Linked DNA regions of Homo sapiens: region 2 is linked to region 1. A link means that fine-mapping ties the variant in region 1 to the expression of a gene that starts in the linked region. Tissue or cell type: whole blood. Region 1 holds a variant in brackets; the other region holds the start of a gene. All regions are shown on one strand. Distances are from middle to middle.

Region 1 (8,184 bases):
TGGTGTGGGATGGGGCCTGGGCATCTGTATTTTTAAAACCCACTTTGACCATGACTGAAAATCAGGGTCTCAGGGGCAAGAGGAGAAATCCACCTCCTTAAGAGGCCATGACCCCTTGGGGCCAGCCTGTGGCCCTAACAGCTCCAGAGGGTCCCTCAGGGTCTAGACTGTGGCCCTCTGAGTGAATGCCCACTCGGTACCCCCTGGTCAGGAAGGGGAAAGTGGAACCCTCCTCTTTCCAGACAAAGAGCTGGGTGTACACGGCACGTGCCAGGCCGAGGGGCTCACCAGACCCCCCCCCCAACCAGGTCCAGGTAGCCTCTAAATGGTCCCATCCTGAGCAATGACACGGTGAGGGCAGAGGGGAGCCTGCAGCGCCACTACACTTAGGCACATCCTCCTACACCCCCTTGGCCATGGGAAGGGGGACTGCTCATTGCCATGACAACCAGGCTCTGCAGCTGGGGCTGCCTCCCCTACCTAGGCCAGCCCTCTGATGCCAAGCCCATGGGTGTGGGGGAGATGAGTGACTAAGGCCGGAAATGGGGGTGAGTCACCGGGGCCTGCTCTGTCCAGAGCCTTCTGCAAACAGGCCATCAACACAGGCAGCCTGAACGCCTGACTGGGCCCCCACTTGGGCAGGCTCCCAATGGAGGGGGCCCCTACTTCTGGCCCCTTACCCTCAGCTCCCCAGGAACCTGTTGGGGGAAGGGGTGACATTCCAGGCTGCCCCGCAAACTGGCACTGCCCCCCAAACACACACCCAGTGGAAAAGCCAAACAGAAGGAGGGTGCAGTCCCAGGCGGGGCCAGGTGCTGAGTCCCTGGTTGGGTGCTTCTGTGTCCCCACTGCTCGTGCTTCTGAACCCTGGGGCAGTGAGAGGACTGGGGTGTCCAGCAGGAAGGGCAGGGCCAACAGAGGTAAGGAGGCAAGGTCAGAGGGAGGGCTCAGGGCCAGGGCAGCGATGCTGCGAGGACCGTGGCTCTCCATCCAGCCACCCAGTAGACATTTATAGGTCCTGCCAGGCCCAAGCCCACAGATGTCGCCTTGACCTTGTTCCTACCTGCTCTGAGCAGGTGCACAAGCCGCCCACCTCCTACTGTTCCTGTGGGGTTTGTATCTACTTGAACCATCTCTGCCTTGATCCTGTAGCTGCCGGGCCAGTGACTGAGTGGGTGGAGACAATCACAAAATAATAGCAGTGAAAATGAGGGCAAACGAAAGCCAAAAGGTGGAAACAACCCGAGTGCTCATCAACAGATGAGCCTGTAATCCCAGCACTTTGGGAGGCCAAGGCAGGCGGGTCATTTGAGGTCAGGAGTTCAAGACCAGCCTGACCAATATGGTGAAACCCTGTCTCTACAAAAAATAAAAAACATTAGCTGGGCATGGTGGCTCACACCTGTAATCCCAGTACTTTGGAAGGCCGAAGCAGGCAGATCATTTGAGGTCAGGAGTTCAAGACCAGCCTGACCAACATGGTGAAACCCTGTTTCTGTTTAAAATATAAAACATCAGCCGGGCATGGTGGCTCACACCTGCAATCCCAGCACTTTGGGAGGCTGAGGCATGTGGATCATTTGAGGCAAGGAGTTCGAGACCAGCCTAACCAACATGGTGAAACCCTGTCTCTACTAAAAACATAAAACATTAGCTGGGCATGGTGGCTCACACCTGTAATCCCAGCACTTTGGGAGGCCGAGGCAGGCAGATCATTTGAGGTCAGGAGTTCGAGACCAGCCTGACCAACATGGTGAAACCCCGTCTCTACTAAAAATAGAAAACAGCCGAGCATGGTGGCCCACGCCTGTAATCTCAGCTACTAGGGAGGCTAAGGCAGGAGAATGCTTGAACCCGGAAGGCAGAGGTTGCAGCGAGCTGAGATTGTGCCACTATACTCCAGCCTGGGAGACATGGCGAGACTCCGTCTCAAAAAACAAAACAAAACAAAACAAACAAAAAACATATGAGACAGATGAGTGCATAAGCAAAATATGGTTTATCGATACAATGGAATAGTATTCAGCCATGTAAAGGAGTGAAATCTGATGCACGCTACAACATGGATGAACCTTGAAAACATCATGCTAAGTGAAAGAAGCCAGACCCCAAACGACAAATACTATGTGATTCCACCCATGTGAGGTACCCAGAGCGGCAAGTTCATAGAGACAGAAAGTAGCTGGGAGGGTACCAGGGGCTGGAATGGGGAGGTAATGGAGAGTTATTGCTTGATGGTTAGTTTCTGTTTGGATGATGAAAAAGTTTTGGAAATAGGCAACAGTAATAGTTGCACAACAGCGTGAATGTAATTAATGCCAGTGAATTAACCACTTAAAAATGGTTGCAATGGCCAATTTCATTATATATATTTTACCATATTTTTTTTTTTTTTTTGAGATGGAGTCTCGCTCTGTTGCCCAGGCTGGAGTGCAGTAGCACGAACTTGGCTCACTGCAAGCTCCGCCTCCTGGGTTCACGCCATTCTCCTGCCTCAGCCTCCTGAGTAGCTAGGACTGCAGGTGCCCGCCACCACACCTGGCTAATTTTTTTTGTATTTTTTAGTAGAGACGGGGTTTCACCGTGTTAGCCAGGATGGTCTTGATATCCTGACCTCATGATCCGCCCACCTCAGCCTCCCAAAGTGCTGGGATTACAGGCATGAGCCACTGCGCCCAGCCTATTTTTTTTTTTTTTTTTTTTTTTTGAGACAGCATCTCGTTCTGTTGCCCAGGCTGGAGTGCAGTGGCACGATCTCAGCTCACTGCAACCCCCACCTCCCGGGTTCAAGTGATTTCCGGCTAATTGTTGTATTTTTAGTAGAGATGGGGTTTCACCATGTTGGCCAGGCTGGTCTCGAACTCCTGACTTCAAGTGATCCACTCGCCTCGGCCTCCCAAAGTGCTAGGATTACAGGCGTGAGCCACAGCACCCGGCCTATTTTACCATAATTTTTAAAGTTTAATGATATAATATGCTGGAAACCATTGTATACTTTTTTTTTTTTTCTGAGACAGGGTCTTGCTCTGTAGCCAGGCTGGGGTGCAGTGGCACAATAATGGCTCACTGCAGCAGCCTCAAACTCTTGGGCTCAAACAATCCACCTACCTCAGCCTCCCGAGGAGCTGGGACTACAGACTTGCACTACCAGGCCTGAATAATTTTTAAATTTTTTTGTAGAGTTGGGGTCACACTATGATGCCCAGGCTGGTCTCAAACTCCTGGCCTCAAGTGATTCAACAGCCTCTGCCTCCCAAAGTGCTCCGCACTGTGTACTTTCAATGGATAAATTATAAGGTATGTGAATGAATATCTCAAAAATGCTGTTAAAGAAGCAGACAGCCAGGTCGGCACCCGGTGGGGCTGAAATGTGGTGGAAGTTGGGGGAGTCTGACCCCAAAGGGCTGTGTGTGGCCACAACAGGCACAAGCACATGGAGCCTGGTTTAGGCCTGGCCCATAGTGGGTGCTCAGTAAATGATCACAAAGAAGGAAACTGAGGCAGGGCTCTGGGGAAGTGAGTTAGTGCCCCGGGTGGAAAGAGGCACCCACGTGTTCTG[A/T]TCCATCTGTCCCCTTAGTCCCATGGCCTCCAGGGGGTACCTTCCCCAGACCAGGACAGCGGCACCTCCCGCCCAATTCAGTGTTGTCAGCTGGGGCTCAGACACCTTCCCAAGCTGCCCGCTTATCTCAGCCTCAGAGAGGGGTCAGGCGTGCTGAGGAAAGGGCAGGCCCAGTTTCTCAACTTCCACCTGCAGCCCGGGCGGTTTGGGGCGTGGATGGTCTGGGGCCTGAGCAGTTCTGTAAGGGTAGCCAAGACCAGGGACCAGAAACTACCTCATGTCAGAGCTGGAAGGGGCCCCAAATCCCACCCTTTTCACAGGTGCACCACTGAGCTCAGAGAGGACAAGCCCTGTGTGCTGAAGATAGTGCAGGTCGCCCCCAGGCAGGGATGGATATAGAGGCTGTGCAGTGGAGACAGGCGCCAGGGCAGCTGGCAGGGAGGGTGGGAGTTCTGTCCAGGCGTGTCCCGGAGGGGTGGCATGCAGGCAGGGCAGGGTGTGTGTGGGGTGTATGCATAGGTGGGGAGTGTGTGTGTGCGTGAGACAGTGTGTGTGTATGAGTGTGAGTGAATGTGTGTGAGTGTGTGCGTGTGAGTGTGTGTGTGCGTACAGGGTTCATGGGTGGAGAGGGTGGAAGGTGGGCCAGCCAGGGGGAAATAGGCGGCTCGCACTCGGGAGGTGCACACAGGGCTCCACAGGAATGCGAGTCATGCAGGGAACTGCTACAGCCAGCAGCTGTGGCCAAGGCCGAGCAGGGAGTAGAGAAAGAGCGTTTCCAGGTGGCCGGGGCTGTGAGGCTCTAGGAGAGGACACACAATGGCGAGGGGTCCCAAAGACCCTCCCACCCTAATCCTTTAGCCAGCAGGCAGCCTCCACACCTCAGGCACCAAGCATGTCCCCCGTGACCCAGCTGGCTGCCACACCCAGGGCTGGAGCCTGGCGGGGGCTCGGTGCCAGAGTCCATAACATTCCTTGGAGAATCAACAAAGTCAGGAAAGGCAGGCGGTGCTTCCCTTGGCCCCGGGTGGGACACAGCAAGTGGGGGTGGCAGCACCCTTTTCTCTGGGGCCAGAACAGGCATGAAACCTGGTTGGGTGCGGAAGTCAGGGTAGGGGACAGGGAAAGATGTGAGGGGGACCACAGGGCCTGGCAGAGCCAGCCCCCTAGTCCCACCTGGCATGCCCCTGCTTAGACTGGAGGGCCACCCAGCTTACCCACCACCCAGGCCAGGCACCTGCCAGGGCTGGGGGTTGTTCTGAAGACCCTCACCTGCCAAGTCACCCACAGCAGTCCCACTCACCCTGCGGAAGACATCCCAGGCAGGCCATGGGCCGAGCCCTCTCGCTCAGGGGCACTTGGTAGTGTGTGTAGGCTGGGGAGGCAAGGGGGCAGGATTCTGCCCACTCAGGCCTCTGCCCATGGGGAGGATGAGGGGCAGGGGCGGAGCATCAGGGCACAGGCACACACGGGGCTGTGGGGACACAGGGTGGCCAGAGAAAATCCAGGACACCCGTTAAATGTGAAATTCAGATAAAGAATAATTTTTTAGTATAAATACATTCCATATTCCGCATTTAGCGGAATTCCAAACTTAACCGGGTGTTCTGTATTTTATTTGGCAGCCCTGTGAGGACGCTCCTGGGGGCTGGCAGGGCCCCCATGGGAGAGGAGCGGCCAGGAGGCCCCCTGCAGGTATCAGCTTCTCTATCAGTCACTGTGTGACAAGCACGGACTCTGGGCCACACTGCCTGGGTTCAAATTTTCTCTCAGCTACTTCCCAGCTTTGAACCCTAGGCAAGTTACCAAATCTCTCTGAGTCTTAGTTTCCTCATCTGTAAGAGAAGGCTACTGGTACCACCTACCTCATATTAGTGTGAGCATTACATGAGATAATATGCGAAAAGCGCCTGGGACAGTGACAAAATTGTTCATTAGTATTCATCAGGCTAGCCAAGAATGGTGGCTTACACCTGTAATCCCAGCACTTTGGGAATCCAAGGCAGGAGGATTCTTTTAGCCCAGGAGTTCAAGACCAGCCTGGACAACACAGTGAGACCCCAACTCTACAAAAAACAGAAACAAAATTAGCTGGATGTGGTGGTACCCAGTCTCCCAGTCTCCTGAGTCCCAGCTACTTGGGAGACTGAGGTGGGAGGATCACTTGAGGTCAGGAATTTGAGGTTGCAGTGAGCCATGATCATGCCACTGCACTCCAGCCTGGGTGACAGAATGAGACCCTGTCTCATAAACAACTAACAACAACAGCAACAACAAAAAGTATTCACTGGGAGCCATCATGGAAAACTAGGCTCTGGCAGCAGGCAGGCATGTGGCCTTGGGCGGTGATTTCACCCCTCCGCCTTGAGCTTCCCGTCTGTAATGTGACATGAGGACAGCACCTCCCGCACAGGGATGCCTGAGGATTAAGCAGGATCAGGTCTGATGCAAGCTCAGCACAGTGCCTCACGCATGGCGGGTGCTCACTGGGCTCTAGCGCTCCTCTCTCTTCAATGATTCCCTGCAAGTCCGCAGCCCAGCCCAGGAGCGGGGGACTGGAGGGGGGACAAAGGACTCCCACTCACTGTGGGGGTGTTTTCTTCCTCCTTCCCCGCTCATCTGGGTCTCCCTAGTGTGGCCCTAAAGGATTTTCCTTCCTCAGGCCCCTCTAAGCCACTCCCTGCCCTAGTCCCTTGACCTGATTTGATATAAAATCTATTCTCTGTTAGGCTAAGGGGTGTGGTGATGGCAGGGGCAGAGCGAGGCGGGGGAGGCTACCTGGGTGACAGGCCTAGGCCTTGGCCTCTGATGGCCCAAGGGGCTGGGCCCCAAGACTGGGTTTCCTTCTCCACCCTGTCCCTGGACTCCCTATGGCCTGGGGAAGGGACATTCCCAACAGACTCGGACTCAACATTCCTCTCTCTGCAGTCACTCAGCAGGACAGGGCAGTGGTGAGGAATGAGGGTGACCTAGATGACATTCTGATATCTATGTAGTTCCCGAGAGTGTCACCTTGATGAGGTGCCCAGAGCTCCCGTGCAGCCTTACTCAGCTGATGAGTACCGAGGCCCGGGCTCAGCTGTAATTATTTGTCTGCATGTGACTCTGCCCACTAAACTGTGCACTCCCTGAGGGCAAAGCTCTGTGCTACTCATCTCTGTAGCCCCAGCCCCTGGCACAGCACCCTGGCCCACTAATGGCGCTCAGCAAACGTGTGGGATGAAGAGGCCAATGGGCATGGGGCCTCCCCTCAGCCCTTCCGCGGCACCCGTGACCCTGCCAGGGCTGACTCCCAGGGCTGCCCTCAGCCATCCCCAAACCACACCATTTCTTAGCCCAGAGAATGACACCTGTCGATCACAGAGTCCAGCCCAGTCTATCTCCTGGGAGTTCTGGGGTCCATCCTGGGTGTCCCCCAAGTCTGGTCCCCACCCCTTGCCCAACTAACTCCTCAGCCTCCCTCCTTGGGTCTCCCTGTTTCGCCCCTGCCTTCATCCAACCTGCCCCCCACTCTCCACACTCACTCCTGCCCAAGCCCTTTCTGGGGCTCCTGATGCCCTCCAGATAAAGTCCATGACTCTCCAGGGAGGGCCTGGAGGAGCTCCTCCCACCCCCAGCCTCTCCCCTTTGCCACTCCCGTCTTCCTCAGCTGGGGCCAGCCAGGGCCTGCTGGCTCCCCAGCCCCTCATGTGCTGCCCCCTGTTCCCCCACCCCCAAGGTCCTGTTCCTTTGTTTCACTGTCTGATCTCCCTGCTGGAACCTCAGCTCTCTAATGCAAGAGCCCCAGGGTGGAGCATACCATAGGCACTCCACAAGTGCTTGTACCATAGTACCATACCATGGGCACCGCATAAGTGCTTGTCCAATGCATGCACAGTTGAATGGATGGCAGGGTAGAGATGGTGTCCTATGTCTCAGTAACCAGAGTGCCAGGCACAGCGCCCAGACATAGTCAGCGCTCAGGTGGAATGAGTCGAGGTAACAAGAAGGCAAAACTGGCAATCAGGACCCCTGAATTCTGCCCCAAGTTCTACACGGGGTCCCTGGCAGCCTTGTCCTTCTGTTCCGGAGTTCCACACCTAGCCTCTCCATCACTGACTATTCTACCAATGGCAGGTCCAACGCAGCACTTCAGTGGCGCGGTCCTTTCCACGTCAGACAACATTCTCGCACACACCCTCTCATTCAAGCCCTCCACTGCCCTGCGGGTCCCACTTTTCCCAGACTCTGAGAGGGTACCAGGGCCCATGTGGTGGGGCACCACCGGGGTGCCAGTCACACTTTGCCCTTTGTTGGCTGTGTGGTCATAGGCAAATTCCTTGCCGTCTCTGAGTCAGTTTCCTCACTTGTGAAATGAGGATTCACCTCCCACCTAGGAAGTCGAGGAAGATTGCAAGACACCACCTGTGTAACCCACCCAGTGCCAGCTGCCTCTGTGATGTTCCAATGAGCCACAGTTACATTCCTTCTCCACGACTGACTTCCCCAAATCTGAGGTGAGAGCCTTGGCTGTCGGACGTAGGCTGTTAGACCAGTCCTGCCAGAGCAGTGTGGCTGTGGCCGCCTCTGTGGGGCCGCGGCTTGGAGGGCTGCTGTGGAGGCCAGCCTCTTCTGCGGAGGCCGACCGC
Region 2 (8,163 bases), 20 kb after region 1:
GGATGAGCGCAGTTTGCTCGCTTTCCTCCCCTGCCGGCCCCCTCCGCCCCCACACACACTCGGGACGTCTTCATTGAAGATTCACTTACAAAGGAATGTTTCACTAAATAAAAGAAAACCAGAATCTTCTGCTGTCTGGTCCCCTACGGAGGGAGCGGGGAGCGGGGCCCGGCGCGAGCGAGGCACAAGTCCCTTTCCTGCTCCCCACCCAATGCCCCCCTGATGGCCCTGAAAGAAGCCAGCGGTTGGTGTTTCTGAATGGGGAATATTTTCCCTCCTCCCCGGGCAAGCGAAGGGAAAACAGGCCTCTGTGTGGAGGGGAGAGGGAGGGGAACCAAGGGTGGCCCGGGCTGGGAGCGGGGCGCCCTTGGGAAGGCGGGGCCAATGCGGGGGGCCGAGGGCGCGGCCCAGCCCGCCGCCCCGTCGGGGACGCGGGGTCCGAGCGAGCTGGGGGTGGCGGGGAGGAGCGGAGCACGGCTGGGCGGGGCCGAGGAGCTGGTTTGGCCCCCGCCCAAAGCGGACCGCGGCTGCTCCAGCTCCGCGCCCCGGGCGTAGAGATGGGGTTCCGAGCCCCCGGCCCCAGAAATGTCCGCTGCCCCCTCCTCAGCTGCCTCAGTTCCCGGTGCCCCACCTTGACCTCCGGGCCTGGGCCTTCCCAGGGGATTTTCTGGGAGGCCAAGGCCCAGCGAGAGCCTCGTCCTCGCCCCGCCCTGAGTAGGGAGCAGGGCCCTGCGCGCCTGGAAGCCCCTGTCGGGGTGGGCCGAGCGCCCGCGTGCAGTCGCCGTCGGGGGGTACGGGCCAGAAGCCTTGGCCTCCCTCTGTCCAGCACAAGCCCTGTCGTCCGTGGGCCGTCTTGGCTCAAGCCTCGGTCCGGCCTGTATTCAGTGGCGAAACTGGCCGCTCTGAGGGCCGCCTGGTGCCAGCGCCTCCAAGTCCACTGGCCAGGGTCTCTACCGCAGTCCCCCGCCGCTGCCACCACCTGGGCCCTAGGACCTTCCTACCCCTGGGTAAGGAAGAGGCAGTTCTGAAGGCCCCTGGCTGAGATCCTTAAACTCCTGAGTTCCCTGTCAGCCTCTAGTCTCGACCACCGTCCCAGGCTTCGCCATCATTGGCCCCACTGGAAGCCACAGTCACTCTTTAGTCGTCAGTCCTCTCAAAGCCGGGAAGGCATCCCTGAGGCTAGACGGTGCGCTCTGCACCTGCACGGCTCAGCCCAGGGTCACAAGCACAGGCTGAATAGCCCCTGTGATAAGGCTGGACTGCAGCAAGCAGGACAGACAACAGCAGGGCCACCTTGGTGGGGGATGCAGGCCTGGAGCTGAAGCCAGCTCCACCACTTGCACAGTAGCTGTGGAACTTGGGTAAGATATTTTTTTTTTTTTTTTTTTTTTGAGACCGAGTCTCGCTTTGTTGTCAGGCTGGAGTGCAGTGGCGCGATCTCGGCTCATTGCAACCTCCGCCTCCCAGATTCAAGCGATTCTCCTGCCTCAGCCTCCCGGAAGTAGCTGGGACTACAGGCGGGGGCCACCACGCCCGGCTAATTTTTTGTATTTTTAGTAGAGATGGGGTTTCACCATGTTAGCCAGGATGGTCTCGATCTCCTGACCTCGTGATCCGCCCACCTCGGCCTCCCAAAGTGCTAGGATTACAGGCGTGAGCCACCGCGCCCGGCCCCCTTGGGGAAGATTCTTAACTGCTCTGGCCTTGGGTGGCCTCTTTTGTGAAATAGAGTTGATCTCTTTTTCATAAGGCAGTCCTGGGGTTTACCAGTGATGGGGCATGTTAAATGCCTGGCAAAGGGTTAGAACCCAGCTAACAGTAAGGTTGCCTGGCCCCTTGACAGAATTCTAGAATTCCACAACCTATTCGTCAGTCCACCTCTCCCCCAATAGAACACGAGACCATACAGTGGAGCCCAGTCCAGGACACTGAGGCTAGGCTCAGCAGTGCCTTCCAAATGCCCTGACTGGGGGTACCCCAGAATCCTCTGGAGTCTGAAGATGGGGTAACAATTTGGAGGTCTCTGTGATAACTCTCTGTGATAACCAAGTTATCTGCAAAATCCCTTTTTCCTCCAGGAGTGCTCTGAGGGGCAGTTCTTGCTCTCAGGAAGCCTCCTAAGGGATGAAGCCACACGGAGTGGCGAACTTTTCAGGTGGACCCGAATTCTTGGAAGCCCAGAGAAAACAAATGAAGGTGTTCATTTTCAGAACATATAGCTGTGCCCAGAGGCCCGCGTGCTTGCGGCTCCCCTTAGAGGCATCTACATTGGCCATGCCCATCACCACTGGCCCCCACCCCCGATATCTCACACTGCCCAGAGCCACCGAAGTCCCAGACTAGCCCTTTCCTGGCACATGATGCTTGGGCTTCCTAAAATGCCCCTCTTCGTGCCACTTTGCCTGAAAGCTCTTCATCCTTCAGAGCCAGCCAGGAAGTCACTTGCTCCTGACACTTGTCCATAATTCCCAGCTCCCATGCACTCGGCTCATCAGCTCCCACCAGGATTTCCCTCACTTGCCATTTAGGCTGGCTGTGGTCTGATGGCCTCTCCACAGTCCAGGAGCAACTTGAAGGCAAGAATGGCATCCCACCCCTCTTTGTACCCTCCTGTTTGCCAAGTGATATAGGGGCTGAATAAGGTTGAAGTTGTTGGGAATAAAAAGAACGAAATCCAGAGTATTCCCCGATTTTAAGAAAAAATGGGTTTTGTGTTTGTGACAGAAAGAAAAATGGCACGGGGGGGGTCACAAAGACCAGCGCTCTAGCCAGAACTGCCCCATGGTTGTCATGTGACCTTGGACAAGTCACTTATTTTCCAGTGTCTTAGAGATGCCTTATCTGTAAAATGGAGACACTCATTCCTATCGTGTCTAACTTGCCAGGCTGTGGTGAGGTCACATGGCTCTGTGCGTAAAAGGTACACAGTGCAAACGTGCTGGAATGTCAGGGATGCTATTAAGGAAGCAATAAGAAGAAAGGGTCACTGGGTGTGTGGCGAAGGAGAAGTGGAAAGGGCGCCAAGATTTTAGGCCTCAGTGACTGGTATGGAGGGTTCTCTGGGTCCTCTCAGTCCCTGTTTATGGAGGGCTGGGGGCTTGGGTCTAGAGAATTTCTCTCTGAGAAACTACGCCCCCGGGGGAATCGGCCCCCCCAGCCCTGCGCCAGAATCCCCTGCAGCAAGTTTCGGAGCAAGGCCTCCTCCATGCTTCCCTCCCAGTCTTGCCCAGCGCCCACTGATGAGGAAGGGCCTCTGCGGGTGAGACCTGCTTCCCTCTCGGATAGCCAGGGCTGATGATTTCAACTCATTAATCATTCCGAACTCTTCCCAACAAACAGCCTCATGGCTGTCCCGGACCTCCTCTGTCCCGGCTCAGGAAATGATCTCGGTCGGAAGTGAAAAGACCAAATCGGCCCCAGGAGGCCATTTTCTTCGACAGAAGCTGAGGCGTGGGGGCGTGGCCTTCCCCCGCTTCCCCCTCCACTCCCCCGCCCGCCCCCGGCCCCGGCTTTCCGATCTCGGCCCAGGGAAGAGCCTTGGTCGCGAATCACCAGTTTGCATTTGCCCCTGGGGCGGGGGCGGCTTTCTGAGACCAGGCTGGGGCTGGGACTCCGCCACCTTCAGCTAAGGGTACCGAGGTCAGTCCGGGAGTCGCGTCACCGGGACTCGAACCCGCCTCTTCGTCTTCCGAGGCCTAGTGCGAGCCTGCGGCGCTAAACGCAGTCACACTGTCCCTTTAAGGCGGCACTTTTTATTCTTCATTTGTTTACTTCTTCATGCGCTCTTCGGTCTTTACAAAATGTGCTCGCGATATCCTTCCGCAAGTGTCAGTCTCAGGCACTCACCACCCGCCTTGAAGCCATTTCTATAATCTTAAGACTCGCGAGTTAGCAGCCGTGGGCCGACGTCTCTCTTTATAGGATTTAATTCTTTTACATTTTAGGGACTACTTTTTAGGAATAAACCATTCTTGCGTTAGTTAATAAAGGTTCATAACCTTCGGAACCCCTCCGCTGAGAACAAAATACGATAATAGCCTTTATAACGCACCTTTTCATAAAAATATTCTGTGAGGACTCTCATAGGCCATCGAATCTTCTCGTATTCCTGAAACAGAATGGTACGGTCCAGAACCCGCCCCATCTTCTCTGCGATTGGCCGTCCTTCCTCAGCGAGTCGTGTGATTTTTCACCAATGGCCGCTCGCGTTTCTTTAGCGAGGTCTAAGCGATGGAAGGTGGCGGCCAGGGAGACGCCCCCTACGCGTCCTGGGATTGGCTACGTCGCACGGCGCGCGAGGGCGGCGGGCCCGAAAGATAAGAACTACGACTCCCGGCGCCCCGCAAAGGGAACTCCGTTACGCATGCGCACGGGCGGGGCGAAAAAGCTTCTATATAAAAGGGGCGCAGAGGACTGGGAGACAGCAGTTGGAAGTTGGCAGGTGGAGAGGCAGGTTGGGAGGGAAAGTCGGGGGAGGACGCGGAAGAGGAGCTGTGGGAAGGGGGAGGAGGGAGGGAGGAAAAGAGGAGGAGGCGGAGGAGAACTGAGCAGAGCAGAGCATCGAGCCAAAGGGGAGATGAGTTTGTCTGTCCTCTGCTGAGGCTACGGCCGGGCCTAGGGAACTGGGAGCTTGGGTGGAAGCGACACCCGTGGAAGTGGGAGGAGGTGGCGCCGGGACTTTAACCCCTTGTGGGCTCTGCGGCAGGGGATTTAACCCTTTGTGGATCTGGCCCCTCGGAGGCAGCGTCATCGGTAGTTTTAACCCCTTCGGGGCTGGGTTTCACGCACTGGACTTACCCTCATCACCTTGCTCACCAACTCCTTTATTGGGGTGCTCCGCTTGGAGGTTTGAGGCCCACCTCCGCCCATTACGTACTGTTCCTGCCGCTGCACCCCCTTGGACCCGCTAGCTGGCCGCACTGTGGGCGCTTAACCCTTTACTGACTTGAGCTCCCCAGATTGCAGTTGGAGTTTGCTGATAGAAGGACTAGCTAAAGGCGTCACTGCAGGAATTACAAACTGAAGAGGACTCTGTTGGACTGTTTTTTTTTTCTTTTTCTTTTTTTTAAGAAAAACCCATTTTTTTCCTTAAGGACTTACTAGCCAAAATTTCTTAAACTTCGAGGACTCTACTAGCCATGGCCGAGCCATTCTTGTCAGAATATCAACACCAGCCTCAAACTAGCAACTGTACAGGTGCTGCTGCTGTCCAGGAAGAGCTGAACCCTGAGCGCCCCCCAGGCGCGGAGGAGCGGGTGCCCGAGGAGGACAGTAGGTGGCAATCGAGAGCGTTCCCCCAGTTGGGTGGCCGTCCGGGGCCGGAGGGGGAAGGGAGCCTGGAATCCCAACCACCTCCCTTGCAGACCCAGGCCTGTCCAGAATCTAGCTGCCTGAGAGAGGGCGAGAAGGGCCAGAATGGGGACGACTCGTCCGCTGGCGGCGACTTCCCGCCGCCGGCAGAAGTGGAACCGACGCCCGAGGCCGAGCTGCTCGCCCAGCCTTGTCATGACTCCGAGGCCAGTAAGTTGGGGGCTCCTGCCGCAGGGGGCGAAGAGGAGTGGGGACAGCAGCAGAGACAGCTGGGGAAGAAAAAACATAGGAGACGCCCGTCCAAGAAGAAGCGGCATTGGAAACCGTACTACAAGCTGACCTGGGAAGAGAAGAAAAAGTTCGACGAGAAACAGAGCCTTCGAGCTTCAAGGATCCGAGCCGAGATGTTCGCCAAGGGCCAGCCGGTCGCGCCCTATAACACCACGCAGTTCCTCATGGATGATCACGACCAGGAGGAGCCGGATCTCAAAACCGGCCTGTACTCCAAGCGGGCCGCCGCCAAATCCGACGACACCAGCGATGACGACTTCATGGAAGAAGGGGGTGAGGAGGATGGGGGCAGCGATGGGATGGGAGGGGACGGCAGCGAGTTTCTGCAGCGGGACTTCTCGGAGACGTACGAGCGGTACCACACGGAGAGCCTGCAGAACATGAGCAAGCAGGAGCTCATCAAGGAGTACCTGGAACTGGAGAAGTGCCTCTCGCGCATGGAGGACGAGAACAACCGGCTGCGGCTGGAGAGCAAGCGGCTGGGTGGCGACGACGCGCGTGTGCGGGAGCTGGAGCTGGAGCTGGACCGGCTGCGCGCCGAGAACCTCCAGCTGCTGACCGAGAACGAACTGCACCGGCAGCAGGAGCGAGCGCCGCTTTCCAAGTTTGGAGACTAGACTGAAACTTTTTTGGGGGAGGGGGCAAAGGGGACTTTTTACAGTGATGGAATGTAACATTATATACATGTGTATATAAGACAGTGGACCTTTTTATGACACATAATCAGAAGAGAAATCCCCCTGGCTTTGGTTTCGTAAATTTAGCTATATGTAGCTTGCGTGCTTTCTCCTGTTCTTTTAATTATGTGAAACTGAAGAGTTGCTTTTCTTGTTTTCCTTTTTAGAAGTTTTTTTCCTTAATGTGAAAGTAATTTGACCAAGTTATAATGCATTTTTGTTTTTAACAAATCCCCTCCTTAAACGGAGCTATAAGGTGGCCAAATCTGAGAACAATTAAATTCATTTTAGTTATAATAAATTTAATATTTGTAAATGTAACATAGTTTCAGTGTGATTTCTAGAGCTAATTCAAAATAGTATTGATATATTTTATGTGACTGCATTTTTGGGGAGGGGTACCGAAATCGTTAAATTTGTCAGTTTGCAAAAATATCAATCTTTAATGGGAGAATTTTCAATTTGCCAATTTTTTCCTTGAATGGGTTTAAGTATGCTACAATATACAGTTCAGGCAAAATTTAAGATGTAATTATCTTCAATACTTAAGTGTGCTTGCTTTCTAGTGCCTTGGTTTTCTTTCTTGATGCTGGAAAAATAAACAAACCGGTATTGAGTGTTTAGGCGAGTGGAAAGTGGCTACAATCCAAAATTTTAAATTTAACTCTGCCTCGGCCATTCAAAAGTCTAATAACAAAAAATGTAAACCTAATTTGGCAGTTTGTTAGGTTAGACAACTGACAGCCTCATTTCATTCCTACAAGTTGGTTTTCAGTAATCTCTTCCTTCCCCCCAGTAAGGCTGGAAGAGGCTCTTGGCAAACTTCTTAGTGCAAGCAATGGTTAGATTAATTTGTGAGGCAGCTCTTTAAGACGTTCAGAGGTAAGAAATACTGGATTTATAAAGCAAATGGCTGTTTGGGGGATTCCAAGGATTTACCTAATTGTCCAATTCTACGTGCTCTCTATACCAAAACAAAAAAAAAAAGCTATCCACCTTTCCATGTGGGTCAAACTAAAATTAGAAATGTCCCCTCACTGCAGATCAAATGTAAAGCTTCCAGTTAAGGAGCTAAATGAGGTCCTCAGCTGAATGAGGAACCCTGTACATCCCCTTGCACAGCCCTATTCTAAATCGCTTAAACTATGCTGATAGCTGCTTAGGTTCTTGAGTAGTTCTGCTCTTAAACGTAGGGAGGCCCTGAGAACTAAATTTTGCCCCAAAATAAAAACAGAAATTATGAGATTGCCTCCTGTCATTTTGGTTAACCCAGTCCTTCACCTGCCCTGTGTCAGTGTCTTCTGAGGGCAATTGCGTTGCTCAAATCACTAGCACAGAGGTTCCTTAATTTGGGGCCTTAGAAACCATTGTGGGCCTTGGGGTCCATGAACCCCATGAAATTATTTGTAGACTTGTATGTACATTTTTCTGGGGAGAAGGTTCAAGAGATTCATAAGATTGTCAAACTCCTTGAAGGTTCAGAACCTCTGCAGGGAAGGGGGAAGAAAACCCTCCCATTAGGAAGCATGCTTTTGCAGTTAAATGGCGATGGTGGAGGTGATAGGGACTTCAAGAGTAAAATGCACCTTGTATTGCATAAGAAGCATACACAAATCAATAAATCAAGGGAGATTATACCAGTAGGACTGAATCAGGGCCTTCAAAGCTGGACTGAGTTGGTCCTGTTCTGGCACATATGGTCCACTGGAGACAATGTATGATTGAGTTTTTCTTTGGTCTAAAAATTATATTAAACATTTATTTTGAAATAGTTTTCTTCGTGTTTTTTTCTTCTGCTATGACGTCATGCAGCAGCCCCAGAAAAACAGCTGCTTGGAAAGGCAGCAACAGTGCCCTCTGGCTTTACAGTGCAGAGCTGAAGCCT

Evidence for each region. PIP is the estimated chance that this variant, and not a neighbour inherited with it, causes the effect.
Region 2: it holds the start of HEXIM1, and the variant in region 1 is fine-mapped to the expression of HEXIM1 in whole blood (INTERVAL, PIP above 0.99).

Annotation. Positions count from the first base shown.
Region 1 is chr17:45,123,665-45,131,848 of GRCh38, forward strand. The region is part of intron 1 of PLCD3 (phospholipase C delta 3); the gene reads right to left. It also overlaps a transcript of ACBD4 not described here. Among named protein-coding and RNA genes, the nearest start is that of PLCD3, 4.8 kb to the right of the region's middle. The variant A/T (reference allele first, on the strand shown) is at 3,560.
Region 2 is chr17:45,144,053-45,152,215 of GRCh38, forward strand. It overlaps HEXIM1 (HEXIM P-TEFb complex subunit 1), which reads left to right and starts at 4,423. Exons shown (of 1, transcript NM_006460.3): 1 at 4,423-8,047. The coding sequence starts at 5,139. The coding sequence ends at 6,218. HEXIM2-AS1 (HEXIM2 antisense RNA 1) reads right to left here. Exons shown (of 3, transcript NR_186789.1): 3 at 5,610-6,867. ACBD4 (acyl-CoA binding domain containing 4) reads left to right here. Exons shown (of 10, transcript NM_001135705.3): 10 at 1-124. RefSeq lists enhancers at 1-345, 1,068-1,788, 3,526-4,408, 4,812-4,861, 4,912-4,961 and 3 more and a silencer at 271-510.